Regions from separate parts of the Homo sapiens genome. Here regions 1 and 2 are each linked to region 3. The links come from fine-mapping of genetic effects on gene expression. A gene starts in region 3. Each other region holds a variant in brackets. All regions are shown on one strand. Distances are between the middles of the regions.

Region 1 (8,187 bases), 54 kb before region 3:
CTTCTCTCTCTTTCTCTTTCTTCTTTCTTTCTTTCACAGGGTCTCACTCTCTCCCAGCCTGGACTGCAGTGGTGCAATCACAGCTCACTGCAGCCTCAAACTTCTAGGCTCAAGTGATCCTCCTGCCTCAACCTCCCAAGTAGCTGGGACTACAGGGGTGCACCACCACACCTGGCCTTGTTTTTCTTTTCTGACAGCTGGTGCTACTCTCTGATAGTACCAACCAATATATCATAGACCTCTCTGCACTATTTGGATTTTATTCCAGGACACCTGAACTGAGGGTAGAGAAGGAAGGAAGAAAGAAGAAAAAAGAAAATCATGACCACCACACTCTCCTGTGAAAATTCTACCTAATGGGTATATTGTTTATAAATCATATGAATCAGCCTGTAACCTAGAATGAAGCCACCAGTGCACAACAAATGCTCTTTTATGGGGTGGGGTTAATGTCTGCAGTTCTGGGCAGCATTGTAATTTGAATACAGGATTTGGTGTGATAATATGTAACAGCAAATGTCAAATTAGGTAGGGGTGTGTACACACTATTTCTATATATATATATAAGTATGTATGAAAGAGTTGGAAACTTACCTATGTAACAAGATATTTTAAAAACAGAGAGAAGGACCCAGAGCAGGTGGTTGAAAGTATCAACATGAGCTAATGCTCCATGAAACATGCTCCATTGCTCATAGGCACATTTCTCACCCTCACTTATCCATTTGGAGATGAATAATTCTTTGTGGTAGGGACTGTTCTGTATATTCCTCTATCTACTAGATGCCAGGCATGCAACCGCCTGTTCAGGTTATTCTAGAGTATGTGTATGAAAGGACAGCTGTTAAGGAAGCAAGTCCAATTCCACAGCTTCAGAAAGTAGATGCCTAAACCTACAGAATGGGAGAAAATTTTTGCAATCTACCCATCTGAAAAAGGGCTAATATCCAGAATCTACAAAGAACTCAAACAAATTTATAAGAAAAAAACAAACAACCCCATCAAAAAGTGGGCAAAGGATATGAACAGACACTTCTCCAAAGAAGACAATTATGTAGCCAACAGACATATGAAAAAATGCTCATCATCACTGGTCATCAGGGAAATGCAAATCAAAACCACAATGAGATACCATCTCATACCAGTTAGAATGGCGATCATTAAAAAGTCAGGAAACAACAGATGCTGGAGAGGATGTGGAGAAACAGGAACACTTTTACGCTGTTGGTGGGAGTGTAAATTGGTTCAACCATTGTGGAAGATAGTGTGGTGATTCCTCAAGGATCTAGAACTAGAATTACCATTGGATCCAGCAATCAAATGGTAATTTGACCCATTACTGGGATATATCCATTAGGTAGAACCCAAAGGATTATAAATTATGCTACTCTAAAGACACATGCACACGTATGTTTATTGCGGCACTATTCACCATAGCAAAGACTTGGAACCAACCCAAATGTCCATCAGTGATAGACTGGATTAAGAAAATGTGGCACATATACACCATGAAATACTATGCAGTCATAAAAAAGGATGAATTCATGTCCTTTGCAGGACATGGATGAAGCTGGAAACCATCATTCTCAGCAAACTATCACAAGGACAGAAAACCAAACACTGCATGTTCTCACTCATAGGTGGGAATTGAACAATAAGACCACTTGGACACAGGGCAGGGAACATCACACACCAGGGCCTGTCAGGGGTTGGGGGCTGGGGGAGGGATAGCATTAGGATAAATACCTAAGGCAAATGATGAGTTGATGGGTGCAGCAAACCAACATGGCACATGTATACCTATGTATCAAACCTGCTTGTTGTGCACATGTACCCTAGAACTTAAAGTATAATAATAATAATTTAAAAAGAGAGTGGATACCTATTAATCAAGAACTAACTACAATTTAGCAAATTTATTTCTAGGCTGGGGGAATGAAGCCTAAGAGTTGGACACAGGAGTCAGTACTTAGCCCTGAGAACATCTCAAAACCAACCCTCCCTCACCTCCAAAAATACCTTCTAGTTTCTGTCCTCAAGAATATCCTCCATTTCTCTACTGTTGAGATAAGGGGAAAGAAGACAATAAAACAAACATCTTGACAACCTTGTGGGGCTTAGCCCAGACTCCCTAGAGAAACTCTCTTGACCAGAAGGCTGTAAGTTGCTTTCCAAAATGGGTTTTTGATGACTACAGAGTGTACTGTCACATAGTAAATGTGGACATTATTTATGTCCCTGGACAACATCCATTTGATTTTCCTTTGGGAAATTCATCCACACGTTTTGGTCACATATTTTGGTTAAATGACCTAGTCTTCAGCTCTAAGGGATTGCCTTAAGTCAATCAGCACCTTCCATCTTCTCTGGCCACAGTGATTAGTTCAGAGATGAGTGTGTTGCCCAGTGCAATGAGACACAATAAATACTAGGAATTGTTGAGAAGATGAGGATTGCTCAGAATGTGGTAGCAACCTAGGTGGTGCTGAGTGAAGTTCTGAGGTTGAGAACTGTGGCAGACATGTTGCTGCCATGAAGGGAATGGGCCTGATGGAAAGAAAGCACTAAGAGTTATGATCAAGACTTACCATTTGATTCCTGGATCAAACTGTACCTGGAGTCAGGGCTCAATCTGGACTATTCAGTTATATAAATCAATTATTTTAATGTTTTCTTTTTAAAATTTAACCCAGGATATAAATTTTCTATCACTTGCAACATAAAGGGTTATAAAAGAAATACTATATAGGCAGATTCTCTGGGAAAACCTCTCCTGGAGGATCTGATTTGGCAGGTCTGAAGAGAACCCAAGAACCTATAGTTTTTGAAGTTCTCCAGTTGATTCCAATAACTAGCCAAATTAGGACATCTCTCTATGGCATGATTCTCAACCCTGGCTGCATGTTAGCATTGCCTGGGAAAGCAAAGACACTCACAGAGCTTCCAAAAATAGATCCTGCCCCAGAAGAATTTCATAAGACTTCGAAGAGTAGTACCTTATCAAAGCTTTGCAGGTTAACGTTTTAAAAATTGGATAATACCAACTGTTGGAGAAGTTATATGAGAGCAACTGGAACTCTCCTACATAGCTGGTAGAAATAGAAATTGATATAGACATTTTAGAAACGTTTGGCGGTATTTACTGAAGCTAAACATATGCCTTCCTTATGGCTCAGCAGTTCCACTCCTAGAATTGAGTGGATATGACA[T/C]GTGCAAGATTGTTCACAGAAGCTTTATTTATAATAACCAAAAAATGGGAAAATCCAAATGTCCATCAATAGTAGAATGAATAAATTGTTGTATATGCATTTGATAAAATATTACACAGTATTTATTATATATTTATATATAATATAAAAGTACAAACTACTTATAAATTGTAAAAAATCCTTGTAAAATTCATCAAGCTTTACACGTAAGACTAGGGCACTTTACCAGATATATGTCATATCTCAATAAAAAGTAAAAATCAAACAGGAAAAAAAAATGACAGGAATGTGCATCCAGAGTTGAAGAGCCTTGTTCAAGAGCCTCCAGCCTCAAAAGGGCATTTAACAATAGGTCACGCTCTGCTTGGTTTATAGAACGTACCTTGTCCCTCTTATTTCCCTGAAGTCCTTCTTTCAATGGGACGCCATGAAGACTGGCCTTCCTGTGTCATTCGTGCCCCCCAGCCTGGGGGCAATGGGAAGGAGTGAATTAAATGCTCTAAATATTAAACTACTTGTAAACTTCCATTTTTGCTTATAAGAATGTCTTATGCAATGATACCACTGGAAAAGATAAATCCAAAATTTATCTGTGTATCTTCCTTTCCTGTGATATTTTCTAAACTGTAATATGGATGATATGTTGCTTTTTTCTCATATTGTACAGTGAAGAAGCTCCTTGGCATCCTAGGCTGAAAGTGAAATTCATTTTAAAATATCTCTCCTGCCTTCAAATGATGGTCACAGCTATCTGACTGGGAAGCCAATTACATTACAGCCCCCACTCCAGCACATCTTAATAGAGTGCTATACCTCAGCAGGGAACAAAAGTGCGGCTGCCCCTCCTGGCCCAAGGCTGGCAGAGGCTTCTCAGCCCTGCCCAATGCCAGTATCTGAAATAAAAACAAGTAGTTAAATCTTCCCTTCAGATTGAAGATTCCCATCCAGTTCCTAGAATGAATTAAAATCCCATTCAAGATTGACATTATAAAATTCTTAAGATTTCCACTATTTACGGTTGGAGCCTTCTTTTTCCAGTAGTGGGTTTATCTCTAACCCTAGAAAATACCCTTCTCTTTATTTTGACAATAATCATCACAAGCTACTCTGTGCAAAGCAAGATTTCAAAGCAAGTTAAGGTCCAGCTTTTATCCTAATGAGATTTATCAGGGACGTATGACATCTGCAAAAGGAAACATATTATGGTACAAACTATATCAAGATTTTTTTTAAGGGAGTTCAAACAACGTGGCCTGAGGGTTCAGAGTGGCTGAGATCACTTCCAATTAGGAGGAAATAACCAGAACCCCCCCTTGCCAGTCTCTGCCCATGCCATATTTACATAAAGAGCAGTTAGAGGGCAAGAATGATGGAAAAGCAATTGAAACCCTACTGGATCCTCTGGGAGAATGTCAAAGGAAATACAAGAGATTGGCTGCAGCAAATCCCATCCTCCTCCATTTCTCTCTATCTCCCACACACTCTGGATAGAGAGTGGGAGAGGCTGCGATGACCCCAGGCTAATTAGTCTTGTCCTGTAACAGATGGCTTAGATCAGCCTCTACTGTAAACCTCTGATGTTGTTCCTCCCCCTTTCTCTCCATTCACCAAAACAATAAAAACTCTAAGATCTGGAGCTTAGAGTGTACTGATGATGTGATTAGTCTGAGTATTTTATCTTCATTTAATTTTCATCGCCGCCCTCTGAGCTGGATTTAACTCATGTACAAGCTATAGATGAAGAAACCAAAGCATAGAGGAGTCAAGTAGCTTGCCAGATTCTCACAGCTGGTATATGGTAGGCCCAGAACCTTATCCTGGACTCCAAGCCCATGCTGAGATTGTTAAGTGTGAGCTCCATGGAACCTTCCTCCAGAAACAGGGCTCTGGACTACAAAGACAGCCCTCCAGACTGTAGCTGTCCAGGGCCCTGGGGCTGAAGAAAGACTTGCATGACCACAGGAGCTCACACTTACAATCCATACTCTCACTTAGCCTCAAAGTATTTGATGGTAGTATGTTGTCTTTGATTTTTATTTGTATCTATTCATGTCTGTGTGCCTGCCATCTCCGCACCATCATAAGCTGTTGAGGACAGAGACTATGACTTCCAGGACCCACTAGGAATCTGATATTGTCAGGCTGCCTTGACAAGAGTATGGGTTCAATAAACACCTGATTCCCTTTCCCATATTCCCTTTTGCTCCCAGTGCCTAGCACATACTTGGTACTCCAAAAATATTACATGAATCGAAGACAGTAAGGACACAAATGTATTTCAGAATTTTAGGCATAAGTTCTACATACCACTTTCATTTCTGTAACTATATTTTGTATATTTCATGCTACAAAACAAATAATAAATAATGGCAGGAAGGCTTATTACAGAACTATCAGATGAGTTATGGCAGACTAATAGCAATCTTGCCCCAAAGCATCATCTGATCTAATGCATTAGTATGATTACTCTCAGCCTTTGAGTGAATTTAAATCATGCTTTTCTTTCTCTCTGTTAGTAAGAGCAATGATTAACCTGTTCATGAAACAAAACAAATGGAACTGGAAAAATAAGACTCACAAGCCACAGAATATATGACTAATGATCAGAGGGAGAGAGGCTAGCAATATCCGCAGAGGTCTGCCCTCAGCTCACAATTCATTCCCTTAGCTCATCCCCACTTGCCCTCACTCGGGGATCTGTGCTCCGTCACGTGTAGCAGGAGCTGCTGGGTCTCCTGCCCAGACTCTGCTGCTGTAAATCATTGCTCCTCAGAGCTGAGTGTTGCATGCCAAGATTGGAATTGCTAGTATCCAGAATCCTGCGGACAAGCTTCTGCCGTAGACTTCTCCTTTGGATCTGAAAAGTGCCCTTGTAAAAAGGGAATTTCAGTATTGGGAGTCCAAGGTTTGATAAGATGAGGGTTGCAACATGACTAGGTAAATGGAACCTCAGATGACTGTGAGATTACCTTACAGGGCATGGGTTGTGCGTTTCCACCTTACAGAAACAGGGGTTCTATGATAGGAGGAGCACTTCAGAAGCTGAAGAAGCACTTAGACACCCTCCCCTGAAATATTTCTCATTAATCAATTAAATCAAGGCATTTTGGTGCAACGGTGACTCCTTAGGGATTATGTATATATTACTTCTAATCTCCCCTGCCCTGGAGCTTAAACCCTAGGCCTCACCTGACTTCTTTGTGTTTTGCACCAAACTGAGAGCTAGAGCCACCAAATACTACTACTAATTAACATTTATGAAGCACTTACTAAAGCCAGACACTGTTCCAGACCTTTGTATTAGCTTATTTAATTCTCACAACAACTCTCTAAGGTAGGATTTATATTTCCCTGTAATTTATGGTTGAACAAATGGAAGCACAAAGAAGTTTGGTAACTTGCTCAAGCTCAAAGAGTAGGTAAGAGTTGAGATTCAAACCTAGATAAGGGTAGCCCTGGAGCCCACTCTTTAAACTCTGTAATATGGCTATGCTAAGAAAGAACAGTAGGTAGAGATGTCAGAAGAGTCAGAGGCAGAGGTATGTAGAGGGAGAGGGAGAAGATTGCCACAGCTTCCCGTTGCCACTCCTCGCTTCCAAAGATGGAGTCCATATGGGCTGGCTCCGTGACTTGCTTTGACCAATAGAATGTGGCAGAAGTGACATTGTATATGTTAGAGGCCTAAGCTTTAAGAAGTACAATAGCTTCTGCTTTTTCCCTTTTAGAAACCAAGGATAAGAACATTAAGATTATCCTGCTGGAGAGAGAGGCCATGCGGAAGAACCCTGGAAAATGAGACAGCTCACAGAGCAAGAGGCCATGTGGAGAAGGCCTAGAAGTAAAATGCCTCATGGAACAAGAGGCCACATGCAGAAGGCCTGGAGGATGAGACGCCCTGTGAAGTGAGAGGCCACGTGGAGAAGGCCTAGAGGAGGAGACACCTTATGGAGCAAGAGGCCGAATGGAGAAGCCCCAGAGGGTTAGACACCTTGTGGAGCAAGAGGTCACACGCAGAAGTCCTGGGAGTGAGATGCCTCACGAAGCGAGATGCCTCGTGAAGCGAGATGCCTCGTGGAGTGAGAGGCCATGTGGAAGAACCCTGGAACTCAGCGGCTGATAACACAAAGATCCCATGGTGTGAGAGAGGCCTTCATGAACTTCCCGTCCAGCCCAGCTAGAGCCAAATGGAGCCATATGTGTGACCGCAAGTGACATCTACAAAAGAACGACCCAGTCACCCTGAGAATTGTTAGAAATGCAAAGCACTAAGTTTTGGGGTAGTTTGTTACACAGCAATAGCTAACTGATACAGATGGTTTGAATTACTTGACTTTAAAGTTCCTTCTTACCCTGAAAGTTTATGGCTTAGTAAAGTGAATTAAGCACATTTGACTGAAACAGAGAGATGGTGTAGGAAAAGATCAGAAGGTAAGGGCAGGGCAAGGTGAGGAAGGCTTTCCGTGCCACGATAAGGAATTTGAGCTTTAACTGGTAGGTTCTGAAGCTGTCCCAGGAGGAAGTGACATGAGAAGATAGTTTTTTAGGAAGACCCACACTGCAGCAGCATGTAGATCAGACACGTGGGCACACAGAGCAGATGTGAGAGAGAAGGAGGCATGGAGACCTGATTGCTGAGGCAAAAAGATGCAGCTGACAATTATGGAGCAACAAGCTACTGAATACAGAATTGAACATTCAGTCTTCAAGACACAGATGTAAGCTGCTTTCTCTGTATCAGCCTTCTCTGTATCAACTCTTCATTTTTTCCAACTATGATGTTTTTACTTTCAAAAATCCATGGGAGAATACATGGTATGTCGTTAAAAGCCTGGGATTTGAAATAAGAAAGCCTTAGCTTTAAACCCCTTCTCTCACCTTCTAGCTGTGTAACTCTGGGCAAGTTACTGAACCTTGCTGTATCGCAGCTTCTTCATTTGTAAAATGGATATAATGATATTTGTCTCACAGGAGTAATGCA
Region 2 (8,187 bases), 150 kb after region 3:
TATATTAGTGGGTTTTTTTTATTTTTAATTTAATGGGGAGTTTATTAATGAACTTAGGTAATTCTGACTTCATCAAAATGAGCATCCTTATTCTCTGGGCTCATAGAAGAAAGGATGACAGGTACACAGCCTATAAAAAGTAAAAATATTTTTGGGTTTCTTAGGCAATTCGGATTTTGGTTCAGGAGCGCCTGACACAGGATGCAGTTGCTAAGGCAAATCAAACAAAAGAGGTACGTTTCTATAAATCCTAAATAAGTTGTTAATGAACATTTCTTCTGGTATGGCCGTGATTTTAAACTTTGCATGTATCTGTTTAAGATATCCATTCTACGTTCTACAACTTAGAGAAAGGATAGCTTACTTCAGTGCTTCCTAAAGCAAATTGAATGTATTCAGTGGCTAGGGGGTCATTTTTGAGTGAAAAACTTCATGTTCCTCTCACTTTGTACCTTAAAAAAGCCACAAATAGCTCATGCACAGTCCACAAATCATGCTTGTGGCCCGTTGAAGTTTATTTAAAATGAGTTACCCATATGAAACTTACTGGATTATTTTGACTCATGCTGGAGAAGAAGGAACACACCTCACTACAAATTAGTTTTCTTTTTCTATCTAAATTCTATCCTTGCTCTTATTTCTTCAGAGTAAATTCTTGTTTTATTCAATTTCCTGGCATAAAACATGAGAAAGTAATTTGGCTAAGGTCACCTAGTTGGTAAGTGACTGAGCTCAGGCAGTCTGACTTGAGAGCCTGTGCTCTTACGGTAGGTGGGGAGAAGGGTCCATGCGTGGATGTCTGCATGAGCTTGTCAGTCTGCCCAGGTGAAGGGACAGGGGGTTCTGTTGGAGTGTAAGGTTCAAGGTACAGGTGACTGAAATGGTATCTTTCAGTCCTACCTTGTAGGCTGAGAAAAGCTATATCCCATGACTACCTTCCCCTTAAAGAGAAAATATGGAACATTTTTAGATTATATCAGAAATCCAAAGATGCCTAAAGTTTCACTGGCTGTGCAGCGGTGGAGAGACTGTCCTCAGGTCAGCAGCAGCAGTGTCTGATAACACCTGCCTCCTGCAGCAATGATGTTGTAGTGAATGCCTTGGGCACAACTATGTTGTTTGTCCTCCCTGCGCCCTTCCCCCATCTCCCAATGCCTTTTGTCCTCCAGCCCCTTTAGGCAGGCCAAGCAGTGTTAAAAGGTTACTAATGCCAGGGCAGTATCTCTGAAAGACACTGTTTTCTTTTAAAGGTTCTTACTGGCTCGTTGTATATGAATCGAGCCACTGGAAGTTGGGTTAAAGATCAGCTTATTTCACCCTCCCTATAGAACAGACAGTAAATTGTTCTGGTGTAATAAAGTCAATCATTCATTCATTCATTCCTTCAGCAAAACTATGCTTTGGAAGGCAGTGTAAGTAAAGGCTTAGCCAAATCTCTTTGCTCTTGTTTGTAAAGTAAAATTTAGTTTTATTTTTAATGCTCCCAATTTTAATTTTGGTGTCATCTCAAAAGATACCAGCCTATAACAATTTAGTGGAGTTCTTACAGTCTAGTGTACTTATAAGCATTTATAACTACTATTTGAGGCATATGGTAGTTTTCAGGGGTAGCTTGGTGGCCTGTTGGCAAAGGAAAAAAAAGTGGAGCCTCTGGTACTAGATGAACATATAAAGCCACTCAGTACAATTCTGCTCTTTAATTTTGCTCACTTGTGCTTTCGTACCCATTGGTTTCTTCAGACTTACATGTGTTAGCTGTTTTAAAGCAGACAGAGCCTACGTAGATTTACATTACTAGATAAGGCAAGAATTGAGCAGTGACTAAAGCATTTGAATAGTAACAGGTTGTAACATTGAAAGATTGAAAGTACGGGTAGTGTGTTTTTCTTGGCAGTGATTTTATATAATCAGCAGGAAGTACAGACTGTCCTCATTTTAGAATTTGTTTCTGTGAAGTTTGGCATCACCATAGTCACCATCTTTAGTATGTCCATAGGTGCTGAGTGGTTTAGTTTTTCATTTTCCTAGACTGTTTGTTTCAAAGTAACTTCCAAGTCAAGTCTTGAAAGTTAAATTATACATAATTATACATAATCTTGGCAAACACCATGCTGGCTGAAAGGTTCGTACAATTTGTAAAGACAAATTAATGTGCTCAGAAATGGAATATAAGGTACTATTTTTGCCGTTTATACTGTTGCTTACTGTCGCCAAAATAAGACAGTAACAGCCTGGCTCAACTTGCCTTCCATAGCAGTAATGACAAGGCACTGCTGCAATAAGGATATATTGTTTTGTATGCCTGGGCTAAAGGATTGGATGAGCTATAGAGCTTCCTGGTACATTTAAAGGTTAACTTTTCCCCCTAACCGGTTGAAATAGGGAAAACTCGCTAATCACAATCATCACAAAGCAAATATAAACAAAATTCCTAGTTCCCTTGCCCATGCAGCTAAAAGAGTTAAGACACCAGAATAGCTAGGTGCTTTTCAGTTTCAGTTGAGGAAAGGATGCTATTCTTAACCATAAATACTCTCATTTTGTCTTTCTTTTTTTAAAGGGCTTACCTGTTGCTTTAGACAAACATATTCTTGGTTTTGACACAGGAGGTAAGTGATTTTGTTTAAATTCAAACTATTTTTTTTACAGACTGAATACTTGGGAGGAAATAAATGGCCTTAAATGTAAAAATTATGTATTGAAGCAGTGTTCTTTTCTCATAAAACAGATGCAGTTCTTAATGAAGCTGCTCAAATTCTGCGATTGCTGCACATAGAGGAGCTCAGAGAGCTACAGACAAAAATCAACGAAGCCATAGTAGCTGTTCAGGCAATTATTGCTGATCCAAAGACAGACCACAGACTGGGAAAAGTTGGAAGATGAACACTTGAGGACTTCAGCTTCTCACCTACTTAGTACAGTTGGGAACCATACACTTCTGGCATGTTTGGAAATCAAAATGTCACATTCTCGGGGGAGGAAGCCCAGAAAATTGGGTATGTTCTAGAGATTTACCACCATTGCTTATTGCTTTTTTCTTTAATAAAGTTTAGGAAAGTAGAATTTTTATTATGTACTGTATGTTTGCATAAATCACCTTTCTCCTTTGTGGTTAAGGCATATATGCCAACCCCCAGCTTTGTCCTAGAGACAATATAGATCCTTAAGTCATAGGAAAACTTAAAACACTTTATTGGAGTAATCTAGAAAATTTTAAAATTGTTACATCTTTGGTATTTATAAATGTGATACTTTACTTTCTGTGGGTACTTCTATAGAGGCACTACAGGATCAGAAAATGCAAATTGAATCATTTTAGCACCTTTTGATATAAATAGAAATGCACTGATGCAGAGGTAAAAAATCTTAGAACTTTTGTTGGGAAACTATAAATAATTGGTCCTTTCCCATCAGTTCTGCATTGGCTTCTCCAACTGTCAAGGTTTAGGATTATATTGTTATATTGATCACATGTGCTTTAATTTCTTGGCCAGAAGGAATCCATGGCAAAAATCAGGTTTAGAGTCTTAAACTCTAATTCTTAGTTGAATGAATTTGATCTTTTAAATATTAATGATAAATGTTTACAAGAAGTTGCTTTAATAAGCAACAGTTAAAATTCTGTTACCTTTTTAAACTTGCAATAACAACCTTCATTTTTAAAAATACAGTAGTAAAGATTGAGGTATCAGCTTTTCACAAAAGTCTTTTTGCACTACAAAATGTTCATCTTGGATGCTCAGGAACGTCTAATGGCCAATTCCTTTTTTACTTTCTTTGCCTTTGCAGTCACTGTTCTTTAGGGTCCAGGTTCTGATTGTAAACTCCAAGTCTTCCTTTACATTACTGTACTTACTTTCTTCCTGTGAGAGAAGAGCAGGGGTGGGACAGGGTGGTGGGTGAGTATATTGTAACCAAGTTGCAACAGCAAGTCTTTGCATTTTGTGTATAAACTAGGTAGATTTAAGGTAGTAAAGACTGGCCCTCAGGGCAGGAAGAAGGCAATGGTGGCAGTGTCACAGGCAGCAGGGGTAATCAAATACCATATATATCCCTTCTCTACCCTGCTAATTTAAAGGAGCATCCTAAAGCATACTTTTTACCTGTTGGGCAGTAGGGGTAGACTGCAGTTATCCCGTAGAGGTGAGATCGTTGTTCTGGGAGATACTCATCAGTAAACTGGCCACTATGTTTATTTACTGATACAACACCATCCCTGGTAACAGAAAGGAAGAGTGAATTCAGGGACAGTCATTTACTAGATAAAGAAGTCAGTCAGCCACAGAAAATCAGTTGCAATAGAGGAAAATTTCTGGCAGCCTTCTCTGTCCCAGGGCTGGTGCTAAAGCCATACTGAAGTTTGAAGACCATTGCTCTAAATCCATTGCTCATCTCT[AGCT/A]GCATGTTAGAATCACATGATGAGCTATCAAATCAGAGTTGTAGGGCATGGTGTAAAGGGCTTAGACTTTAATGTTCCACAGTTCCTCATTTGAGAACTAGTCTAAATAGTATTTTTCGGTCCCTCAGACAATATGTCCACAGTGTCAAAAGCCAACTTAAGCCCTGTAATATAGCTCATGGTATCAAGGGTAGTCTTATTCTCTAAAGAACATATTTAGATTAATATGCTCCCTTTTGAGACATTATCCAATAGCTTTGCTACTTTTTAAGCTATATGTGAGCAATACCATTCGATTTCTGGGTGAAGTAAAAGGATGATTTCAAAAACATGAAAGGATGAAAAACATCCTTGAAGGATCTTATCTGCCAATGAGGAGGTGATGAAACAAAAGCCTCAGAGGGCTTAATGAGTCAAGTCAGGTACTGACTTTTGGTAAAACAAGTGGTGTGTCCTCTGGAACAGTTGGCCTTTTCAGGCTTGTCCAGAATTTGTGGGGCTCACCTCCTCCAGTCTGTGTGGTAGAAGTGATCTGCATAGCTTACGATGCTGAAGGGGTACTTGAGGTTGTTTTGAATGACACGCCGTCCAGTTCCATCAGGTAGTGTACACTCCAGTTTTTTGGTTCCTTTTAAAACAAAGGGGGAAAATGAGGTCCTTCAGCTGCTTTGCCAAAAATGATAGTGACATAGTGATAGTGACACAGTGATAGAATGGGGAAATAGGATATTTTACTTCCATTACAGTCATAGATTAGCAACTGTAAAATTACCTGTCCTATTACTAGTCTCCAGTTTTTAGTAGAGATTCAAACTTTCAATCCTTTTTTGGAAGACAGGATTGCATTTACTGAAATCTGGTAAGTTTCTGCCAAAGTAGGGCATTAAACATAATTATTTTTATAATTTGTGTGATTTCAAGCCTTAGCTTATAAATTATAACATCTGGGTAAATACTTGCCCTTTGTAAGCTATGTCTATAATTACTGAGGCAACCTTTTAACCAAAATCCTTAGTATTTTTAAAATATTTTCTAGGTAGGAGGAAAAAAGTGACTAAAATGGTAACATAACTCATATTTCAATGTAAAGGAATCAGTCTTAAAAATTTTTACAATAGCTAAACCATTCAAGAATTTCCAAGTTTCACATTTCTCATGGAGCCGATTTAAATTTCAAATCCTTTTAAGAAATGTAACTTGTTTTAAACAACTGGGTTATAAAAGTGACCTATGTACATTAGGCCCTTTTATTAGATTACAAATTCAAGAACAGTCTTTTTCATATTCTTTAGTATAGAACTAGACACACAGCATTTTTTCAGTTGTGCTGATAAAAGCAAACAAATGTAGGTTGCTAATACCCATGTTATTACTGAAGGAAGCTACCCTGCTACAATGCTTTCCAAAGAATGTCCTTAGCATTATAACAGATGTTTATAGGTAAGTTATAGTGACCCTCTCCCCGCATAAGAATAACTTCACTTAAGTTTGTCAATTCAACAATGGCTAATTCTTTTAACTGTTAAAAATATGCCAGGCACTCATGGTCAGGCAAGCAGTACAAACTTACTGCTTGATATATCCTTCCCTCCACCCAAACCCCAGAAAGTTCATTTTAAGACTCATTTACTAGTACTTAAATTTACTAGTACTTAAAAGTTTACAGACCAAAGAAAGGAGATCTAAGTGATGGGATTTCATTTTGTAGTAAAATCTGTTAGTGCTCACATTCACTGTGATGAGAGGTTATCTATTTGCATTCCATCAGTAGTATTACCTGCATCTGCCCAGCAGAGCAGTTTAGAGAAAGGGTCAAAGGTTAAGCCATTGGGCAATCCAATGTCTGTATTGATCAGAATTCTTCTGTTTTCTCCATCTAAAGATGACGTTTCAATTTTAGGAGCTTCTCTATTCCAGTCTGTCCAGTACAAGTTGCTGTAAGTTAAAAATCAAGATTGTAAAAGAATAGCCATGTAGCCTGTGGTAGGCAGCATCTAAGCAGCCCCCAGTGATCTCCATCTCCTCATGTATTATAGCCTTAAGCAATCCCCTTGAGTTTGGGCTGCATTAGTAGTGTCTTGCTTCTTCTAGTGCATAGAGTATAGCAGAAGTGATAGGCTATCACTGCCGATATTCGGTCTCAAAAAACTGGTTTCTGCCTTAGGGGCTCTCTCTTGCTCCCTTTGAGGGAAGCTGGATGCCATGTTGCAAGCTACCCTGTAAAGGGGAACATGTGCCAAGGAACTGATGTCCTTGAGGGCTGTTGGCCAGAGACATTAGTCTTGCCTGTAGCCCATGTGAGCATGCTTGGGCTGTGTCTTCCCCGAGCTGAGCCTTGTGATCACTGCAGTTTGGCCATTACCTGATTGCAGCCTTGTGAGAGACTCCATGCCTGAGGGAGCTCGGTGAAGACACACTTGGATTCCTGACTCACAGAAACTGTGAGACTAAATGTTATCTTACACTGCTGAGGGTTTGGGCAATTTCTTACACAGCAGTAGGTAACTAATACACAGCCATATTCCACTTTTACCTGTATCACAAGGTTTTCTGATTATTGTCACTATGTGGGAGAAGTCATTACTAAGTTACTATCAGAATCCCTGCCTCCAAGATACCCCTTGACTCAACTGCCCCAAAACCCTCCGTTTGTTGAAGTCTTGAATTGGATCTTGGGTTTTAGAATAGAAACAAATACAGCTGTTAGGAATGGCTTCGATACAAACTATGGAACTTGAAGAGATGTGGACCAGGGATTTGAGAAGGAAACTGTTCTTTCTTCTGCCAAAAATACAATTTGGTACTTGAAGGGGTACCTGGCACCCAGGGATGGAAACATTTTAAGTTAAGCACTTTACCTTTTAAATGCCACGTTAAAAATGAAATATATTCATAACAGATACTAACGAGGAAATATGGTCCTATTAAGTGGAAATAGGTTATAAGGAAACAAACAGGTTTATCGTTAGAGCAGAAATAATGTTGAAAGCACTTTTTATAAAATACTATTTTATAAAAGCTATAGAAGCTTTGAATAAATCAGTTGGGCTACAGAGAACCTCAGTGAGAGGAGAGGAAGAAACCATAGGTTTCCCCTGTTGCGAATTTCATCCCTTATGCCCAACAGATGAAGCAGAGAGAAGCTGAGAGCAAAAGCTAGAAAGCAGTTTCCACTTTGCGCTAAGGTGGAGGTGGCCAGAGGGTACAGCATGCATATCATTGCTTCATCGCTTCTGATCAGTCTCCTCCCCAAAATGATTTAATATCATCAACAACAATAAGTCTGAAACAAGCTCACACAGATATTTGGTGTAAATTATTTGGGGATTGCCAGAGGAAGAAAGTTGTAAAGGTGAAATCTATAGAAAGCAAATGAGAAATATGCAGGAAGGCTTGACAACCATTCTGTTACGCAGTTGAAGGAGATGTAATTACATGTGTTATATTGCAACCTGGTTCAAGGTGGGTTTTCTTTTTATTAAAAATTCAAGTCCTTTAGCATTTATATTTGCTGTCTGGATAAGAAAGTTCTACTTTCATATTTAAACTCATGGCTGTGATGTGGATTTCAGCTTAAAAGTATGCTTTTTCCCCAGACTCCAGAGACATGGCCAAAGTTTCATTGCCTACAAGATGGCAGCTCTCCCCAGTTTTCAGGTCAAGCACCAAGAAGGAATAAGGGGCCGGGCGCAGTGGCTCATACCTATAATCCCAGCACTTTGGGAGGCCAAGGCAGGTGGATCACCCAGGGTCAGGAGTTGGAGACCAAAATGGCGAAACCCTGTCTC
Region 3 (8,187 bases):
CAAAAAAATAAAAAATGAAAAAATAAAGAACTAGCTGGGCATGGCGGGGGAGGAGAGAGAAGGAGGTGTACAGCATTGCAGAGAGATTAAAGAGTTTGGGGATTTGGCATATGAGATGCTCTGGGACAGTTGGAATGTGGCAAAGATTTGAGAGTGCAGAAGGGGATGTGAGAAGTGTTTCTAGCTTATTCATCAGTCTCTTTAAAGTTCCTACAGAGATACAAATAAAGAATAGCTTTCTTTTTAATATTTCTTTTCTTTTTTGTTGTTGTTGTTCGAGACGGAGTCTTGCTCTGTTGCCCAGGTAGAGTGCAATGGCAAAATCTTGGCTCACTGCAACCTCTGCCTCCTGGGTTCAAGTGATTCTCCTGCCTCAGCCTCCTGAGTAGTTGGGACTACAGGCGTGCACCACTACACCCGGCTTATTTTTGTATTTTTAGTAGAGATGGGGTTTCACTGTGTTGGCCAGGCTGGTCTTGAACTCCTGACCTAGTGATCTGCCTGCCTTGGCCTCCCAAATTGCTGGGATTACAGGCATAGGCCACTGAGCCCAGCCTTAATATTTATTTTCTAATTACTTTTTTGTTGCCAGACTATGCTTCTTTATAAGAAGTTCAATGCAGAAATGGAACTAGGAGTTGTCCCAGAATTTTTTAGGCTTGCCCATATAACAAATATTCAGAATTTTGTGTGCATGTGCCATGGATTTCTATAGAAAATTTGCAAAATATATATATAGAGAGGGAGGGATTTTATTTCTTACCCCATGACCAACTTCTCATTTTTGAGACTTCCTTTTCCTCCCCTCACTCAAAGGAATGGAATTTCTGCCAATGATGCCTTTTCATTATACAAACATCTGTTGACTCTGCTGTGTGACAAGCAAATGTGGACCTAACCTTAATGGACCCAAATGCTAATGGGTGAGATGCACATCTAACAAAACCTGAAAATAATGGCTTTAGTGCTGAAATGGAAGTAGAGGCAAGGCACCAGTCATACTCACAGAAAAGGAAGCACCTGCCTAGTTTCCACGGCCAGGGAAGGCTTCTGAGAAAAGCTGAGTCCTAAAGGATAAGTAGGGGTTTACTAGCAGGCAAAATAGAGGAAGGGATAGGGCATTTCTGGCAACAGAAATAGCATGTGCCAAGATGCAGGGAGAAAGCAGCACAGTCCCATCAGGAACCTGTTGTGAAGGTTGTAGGATATAAGGCTGCGACAGGCCCTAAGGTGAGAATGTGGACAGGTGACATCACAGAAGGCTTTGTATGCCATGCAGAGGAATTAAGGCATATATCCTGTAAGCAACCTGGAGGGGAAGATACTGAAGAATTATAGTAGGAAAGTGACTTGATCAACTCTCCATCTCAGCAATGTACTTCTGATGGGGATGGCTTCGAAGAGAGACTGGAGGTAGGAGGACAAAGTAGAAAGTATTGTAATTGCACAGAAAAAACCAAAGCATTTGTAAAATAAGACAGTGGCAAGAGGAAGAGAGAGGAGGGGTTTGGGCAAGGAGATAGTTTGGTGGTGAGAAGGAAAGGAAGAGGAACTTTAAATCAGATTGGGATAACAAAGATAAAAGGTTTTGGGATTATTCTTATATTCCTGATGTGGGCAACTGGTTTGTATTCCTCATTAAATGAAATGGAGAATATAGAAAGAGGAACAGGCTTTGGATGAAGGTATAGTACATAATTTGGGGATTATTAAACATAACTCCAAGGAACATCCAGCTAGAAAGCTCAATAACATAGGAGAGACATCAGGCCAAAATTATGTCCTCCTCATTACCCAACCTCCGCTACCAGTAGATGTAAGAAATACAAGGTATTAATGCCTGCAAATAGGCCATGCATGAATGTTAGAGTATTTTACAGACTTTGTTTTACCCAGTGATAAAATGTACTGGGATAGGCTCATGGTTAGCAATTGATGCATAAACTATTAATGGCGAGATGTCATTTTCCTAAGAAATTAACACTTTGCAAACTTGGTATGCAAACTTGTGTTAAGAGCTCTAAACTGGATTAATCTATCCTGGCCAAGCTATACCCCCACACTTTACTTTTCTCTCCTGAAAAAGAGGCTATTAGGACCAGTTGAAAAGCAATGAGGTATTAATGAAAGAGAGGTCTTAAAATCTAGTTTTTAGCTTTGTATAGAGTTTTGTTGGCACCTCCCAACACTGGCGATTAACCTACTGTGAGTTTTATAAGGGCCAGAGATGGAAGAACTAATTAAAAGGCAGCAGGCAAAATTCCTAGAGATTTTATTGTTTGAAAGAGGTTTTCCTATATAGGCTTAAGTATAAATACCAACCTATATAGGCTTAAATATAAATACCAACCATCGGAGGATGGTTGAGAGAGAGTTAGAAACAAAAAGACACAAAAAATTACTGTACTTGAATCTAGAGTTTATGCCAGAACCTACTTGTCTAAAATTAACCATAGTCTTGTTTCCAACCATTAATAACATGCTTCTCATTTTTCTTAGACTTGGCATCATGCATATTTAAATTTACATTTAAAAGTTCCTGGTAACCTTTGGCACAAGGGTTCCTGGTTTGGAGATAACTCACATGTTGGTGGATTCATGCCCAATCCCTCTCACTACTGCATTTCTATCTGCTGGTGGATCAAAGCTAGTTGCTCATTTTCAATCTTAAATCAATCCATTTTGTAATTTTCAGGTGTGAGTGAGTTGACATCAGGGTCCTTTTTGATGAAAGATTTCCTTGAAAAAATAAGCAAACTGTTCAAATCAAAACAAAGGGTGTTTTGGGACTGTCTCAGAACATTTCATAGAAATTAAATTCTGTACCTTCTAGGTTAACGTGCTGTGGTCCTCACGATGTGTTTGGAAGGCTCAACTGGAGAGTTATTCTCCATCAGTCCTAGATTTCTAACATTTCCTGTTAGTTTACTTGCTGGAGGATTAAGGCAAAACTGGATTAAAAAGGAGGAGTTGGGGAATTAACTGTTTCCTGGCAAGATTAGCTTTCCAGGCACTGATTCCTGAGAAGAGGTGTTTTTTGTTGTTGTTGTTTTTGTTTTTAACTCCATAATGTTGCCTGGACACTAGAACAGGATTCCCCTTCCCCCATCTCATGTTTAATCTGTAGCTTCCCCAAAGTACCTTGTGTTAGTACTAGGGGGAGAATGACTCACACGTTGAATAAATTGTTATTAAAGCATCTGGGCTCAATTGTGAACATACTAATAGTGAGGAATTGGAAAACCAAGTACTGGTGAGGGTTCGGCTGCTGACTGGCGAAATCACTTGCTGAATGTGAGGCCCAACATCCTCTAAAAATAATAAGAGTTAATATGTGCCGAATACGTCCTATATCCCCAGAACTATTATTAGCACCTTGTATACCATCTCATTTAATCCTCATATTTCCAATGTAGAGCATGACTATCATCAACTATGTTTTGCAGATGAGGAAACTGAGGCACATAGATGTTAAATAATTTGCCCAAGTTCATACAGTCATTAATGGCAATTTGGATTGAAATTCTGGCAGACAGAGACAGCTTGCAGGCTCTACCCTGGTGGGTTCTACGATATTACCTCCTAAGATGAAGGGAAGGGACTGGAGGATCATGAGGGTCCTTCAGCCCTACTAGTGTGTGTGGAATGGGGAGAGGAGTATTCAGTTTCTCTGTTGGGAATGTGCAGCATTCAGCACCACCTCATTCCTTCCCATCTATGAGAATCTTTTGGGAATAGTCCTCACTATTAGGCCTATAGGTAGCATTGCCAACTTGGTTTAGTTCCCGTGCCCCATAAGAATACTTATCAGGGCCATTCTTTTCTGAGCATGTGGGTTAAGTAAGATCTCAGTGGTAGTGGGACCTTGGAGAAATGAAGCCTCTGAAATGTTGGCCACAGAGAAAAATGCTGCAGTGAGAAGCTGCAAGCTGCAAGCTGCAAGCTCCCAGCTAGCTGGCTTGATGGGGACCACAGTAAATCAGGAGGAACAGTGGAGGCTGGTGTGGGATCTCGGGGGCCAGAACCTGGCCAGGGGATGTTGACCCAAAAAAAAACAGCAGCAGCAGTAGAAACAACAACAGCAAGAACAACAATAGCAACAAGCCAGGTTCAGGCTAAAAAAGCAGGCAGTGTGCCAGGAAGGGGGCCGACTGAGCAGTGTGTGGAAGCTGTCGTGGAGGTGACCGTGGGGGGATGAGAAAAGGGGAAGGAAGGAACAGACAGCACCAGAGGGACTTGAACAAAGGGAGAAGGGGGATTAAAGTCAAATCACTGTCAGCAGCCCAGGAGCAGACAAAACCACCAGAGTAAGCCCTGAAATGGAAATGAGAGGGAAAAGAAGCAAGCCGCTAACAGCTACCAAGAAGAGGAGGAAGTGGGAGATGCGCTGCTTCCTGTAGAAAGAACGTTGATTGAAGACAAAGCTGGGTGGGGACTAGTCCCTGGGCTGCAGCCGCTGCTACACATACTCACAACGCTGCCGCCGCGCTCCGTGGGCAACTCCTACTACTGCTGGGCTGGGCTGGGCTGGGCTGGGCTGCGCCGGAGCTCGCCTGCACAGATCAGCTCCGGAGAGGGGAAAACCACGCTCCTCGGACCAAGCCTCGGGAGCTAAGGTAAATGAAACGTTTTCCATGTTGCTCGTTTTTAATTGAGAAAAACGACCGTCGCTTGTGGTTTTAAGGTCCGATTTCTAAGGGATGATAGAGACATCGCTTCAGGACTAGGGGAAATGATTAGATTCTTTTGGAAGGGTCTTTGAGAATAACCACATTTATGACACATTTGATTTAAAAAAACCTCATCATCAGTGCTTAGATTTGATGACTAAACAGGCCAACATGCTAAATACAAGAAGCTGTTTGTATAGTTCTCTCGGAGGAAAACCAGGGCTGAGTCGAAATCCATCTGGGGCTGTGAAGCTGTGGTCTGGTCATCGGAGCCCGGCAGTCCCCTTGTTTTAGGGGAGTGAGTGGTGTAAAATATTAATTGCATTCTCTTTCTTACACATTGCACTGGGATATCTTCTGTTTTGCAAAAATAATGGCTGTGATTTGGCTTTTGGGGGAGTTAAATTCTTTTGTACTTAGATTTTGCCAACAAAGGCTTGAATTGCGTATGTGAGGGGCAGTATTTACCATTAAAAAACAGTGTCTTCCTCCCTCAGCTTGTGCAGCTGCTTTCAGGATAACCTCAGACACAGCTATCATTTGCCAGTAGGTCTTATCCTAAAGTTGCATCCTTGTTCAAAGGAGCGTGGCGGGTTTAAGGCCAGTAACTTGTCCAGAATCAGATACTAGCATATGCATGGATTTTATGTTTATATGCATTTTATTCACCTCTAGGTCAAGGTGCATGTTAGCCTCGGTGAGGGACAAAATAAAAAAGTGCAGCTGGGTTGTTTCCTTACGCGAATATCTGGTAGATAGACTGAAGTAGTAAAACCAGAACATGATTTTTATTCTTTGATTTTCTTGAGCAAAGGATGTTCTTAATGAGAGCCTGGGTCTATGACTTGTTCATATTTATGAATGATATGTAAAAGTACACTAAATAGGTCTAGCAGATGAGAACTGAGATTGTGAGATTCCTCTGACAGGATATATTAGGGAGTTTAATACCCTCATGCAGCACGATTTAAAGAATTAAGCTTTTTTAATCTTCAACAGAAAGTACAGTTAAGCAGTAAGTAGTCATTGATAAAAGGGTTTTTCTTCTAGAGTTTCTATAATGAAAGGAGATAATTTTTCAAAAGAAAGAGAAAAAACTGCTTATAGTGGAGTAAAAATTTAAAAAAAGTCAATATTTTGACACTCACAGATTCTTGAAACATAGGTTCTTAGATACCAAATATGCTAGTTGAGAGTGTATGTATGTATATGCCTCCTCCTTTATCATCGTTCTCACTTGTTAAGAGCTATAGGGCTATTTTTAATGCTATCTTTATGAAATCGATATGGCTTCTCAAAATCTGTGGAGTAGCAGCACATTTTGAGAGATGGGAAGCTTTTATAGCTACTAAAGAAAAAAAAAGTCTATTTCTCAGAGGTTTTTTGCTCATTAAAGTAAACCTGCACCATGCCTAAGAGACAAAGTACTGCTAGTATTGAAACCATGGAACTCCTTGAAGGATTCACTGAATTTAATCAAACTTGTGGGCAAAACAAGTCGTGACATGGATTTTGCAGTTCCACTTCCTATTTGCATCTTAAAGGGAAGTATGTAAAGATCATCTTCTTAGAGAAGAGACCTAGGATAGATCTTCGATCCAGAATGACCCAGTGGAGTTCTAGAATCAAGCTGTGCATCATGAAATGAAGTAAAAAGTTGGCAACCTGAGCTGCATGGATAAGGACAGGCTTACCCTTTGGTACTTACTCCTCTGCAGGCTGTATTCACTAGATAATGCCAACACCCTACTTTGTTTGGGGAGGCACAGACAATCTGCATTAGTCTTCTGTGTGTGTTTCACACATGAGTAAGAAAATGAAACCTTGCCCGACGGGCATAGTAGAGTCAAGAGGGCCTTGCTATCTTTCTGAAAACAACTAAGAGGTGCCTATTTTCTGCACAGCACAAAACATTTCTTAATCGTTAAATTCCAGCTTGAAGCAGAACATTAGTGAGTAACAGCAGATCAGTAACTATGATGGTAGAATGTTTAGGAAAAAGATGAATATGCTTCTACATTGTAAAATGAAACTATTTCCACTTATTCTGGCCATATGGAATATTGAAAGACTTAATGATTTTTCCTGGGGTATTCACTGGCTTTTGAGGAGTAGACCAACACAGAAATTTTAATTGTGCTTTTTTTTTTTTTTTCTGCCATATGGCCAATGGCTGAATGGAAACATGACTCCATTATTTCATTGCCAGCCTTGGGCCTCATATGGTGGACATGTAGTGAATGTGTTTGTTTGACTGACTTTGTTTAGCCTGCTTCAGAAAGCAGGCCCAACTTTTAAGTCTAAAAGCTGTATAGTCAAAGTAGAAAGCCTGTTCATAAAAGACTTCTGTGGGTAGGAGAAAACACTGTGGAGTGAAAAGAACGCAGGCTTTGGAGCCAGGCAGATCTGCCTTTGAAACCTATTACTGGTTCTTACTACTTACCTTGGTACATTAACTTAGGAACCTCAGTTTCCTCATTGTAAAGAAGGGCTAGTAATACATAATCAAAGTTGTTGTTTTGCTTTGTTTTTGCTTTTGTGTGCGGATAAGTGAGTGATTTCTACATAGAAGGTACTGAAATGTTATTTTTTTCTTCCTTGGTGGCATAAGGAAAAGTTAGCATATTCTTGGTCTTTACCACTGCCTCACAGGTTTAGGGAGACTTTTTTTATAGTGATAAAATATACATAACATAACATTTCCCATTTTAACTATTTTTTTAAGTATGCAGTTCTGTGGTAGCGAGTACATTGATGTGCTGTCATCACCACCGTCCATCCATAGAACTGTCTTTATCTTGCAAAACTGAAATTCTATACCCATTAATCAATACCTCCTCTTTCCCTCCTTCTCTCAGCTCCTGGAAACCCCCATTTTACTTCTGTCTCTATGAATGTGACCAAGTATCCCATATATGTGAAGTCATACAATATTTGTCCTTTTGTGACTGGCTTAATACACTTAGCATAATGTCTTTAAGATTCATCAATGTTGTAGCATGTGCTAGAATTTCCTTCCTGTTTAAGCTGAATAATATTCCATTGAATGTATAGACTATACTTTGTTTATTCTCTTTTGATGGACACTCGGGCCATGTTTTGGCTATTGTAAATAATACTGCTATGAACACGGGTGTACAAATATCTGTTAGAGTCCCTGCTTTTACTTCTTTTGGGAACCCAGAAGTGAAAATGATGGAACACAGTAATTATATATTTAATTTTTGAAGAATTGCCATACTGTTTTCCATAGCAGCTGCACTATTTTACATTCCCACCAGCAATGAACAAGGATTCCAACTTCTCCACATTCTCATCAATATTTATTTTGTTTTTTATTTATGTTTTTGATAATAGCCATTTTAAGAGGTATGAAGTGGTATCTCTTTATGGTTTTGATGAGCATTTTCCTAATCACTAGTGATGTTGAGCATCTTTTCTTGTGCTCATTGGCCATTTGTATATCTTCTTAGAAAAATGTCTATTCATATTCCTTGCTGATGTTTTTCCCCAGAAA

Alleles and levels. Alleles are on the strand shown, and positions count from the first base shown. SD is a standard deviation of normalised expression in the study named. Not every link is listed here.
As copies of C replace T in region 1, the expression in cerebellar hemisphere of the gene that starts at base 4,438 in region 3 goes down (moderate effect, 0.58 SD a copy in GTEx).

Evidence for each region.
Region 1: its variant is fine-mapped to the expression of GNG2 in cerebellar hemisphere (GTEx, PIP above 0.99). The same link has a PIP of 0.9 or more in cerebellum.
Region 2: its variant is fine-mapped to the expression of GNG2 in whole blood (TOPMed, PIP above 0.99).

What each region holds. Positions count from the first base shown.
Region 1 is chr14:51,801,687-51,809,873 of GRCh38, forward strand. It overlaps LOC101927598 (a long non-coding RNA gene), which reads left to right. Exons shown (of 8, transcript XR_002957605.2): 3 at 6,935-8,187. Among named protein-coding and RNA genes, the nearest start is that of GNG2, 55 kb to the right of the region's middle. The variant T/C (reference allele first, on the strand shown) is at 3,210.
Region 2 is chr14:52,001,634-52,009,820 of GRCh38, forward strand. It overlaps RTRAF (RNA transcription, translation and transport factor), which reads left to right. Exons shown (of 8, transcript NM_016039.3): 6 at 165-233; 7 at 2,561-2,609; 8 at 2,729-8,187. The coding sequence ends at 2,883. NID2 (nidogen 2) reads right to left here. Exons shown (of 22, transcript NM_007361.4): 19 at 6,177-6,334; 20 at 4,904-5,027; 21 at 4,104-4,216; 22 at 3,176-3,863. The coding sequence ends at 3,853. Among named protein-coding and RNA genes, the nearest start is that of RTRAF, 16 kb to the left of the region's middle. The variant AGCT/A (reference allele first, on the strand shown) is at 4,397.
Region 3 is chr14:51,856,175-51,864,361 of GRCh38, forward strand. It overlaps GNG2 (G protein subunit gamma 2), which reads left to right and starts at 4,438. Exons shown (of 4, transcript NM_053064.5): 1 at 4,438-4,616. RefSeq lists a silencer at 3,925-4,004 and enhancers at 4,057-4,558, 4,345-4,554.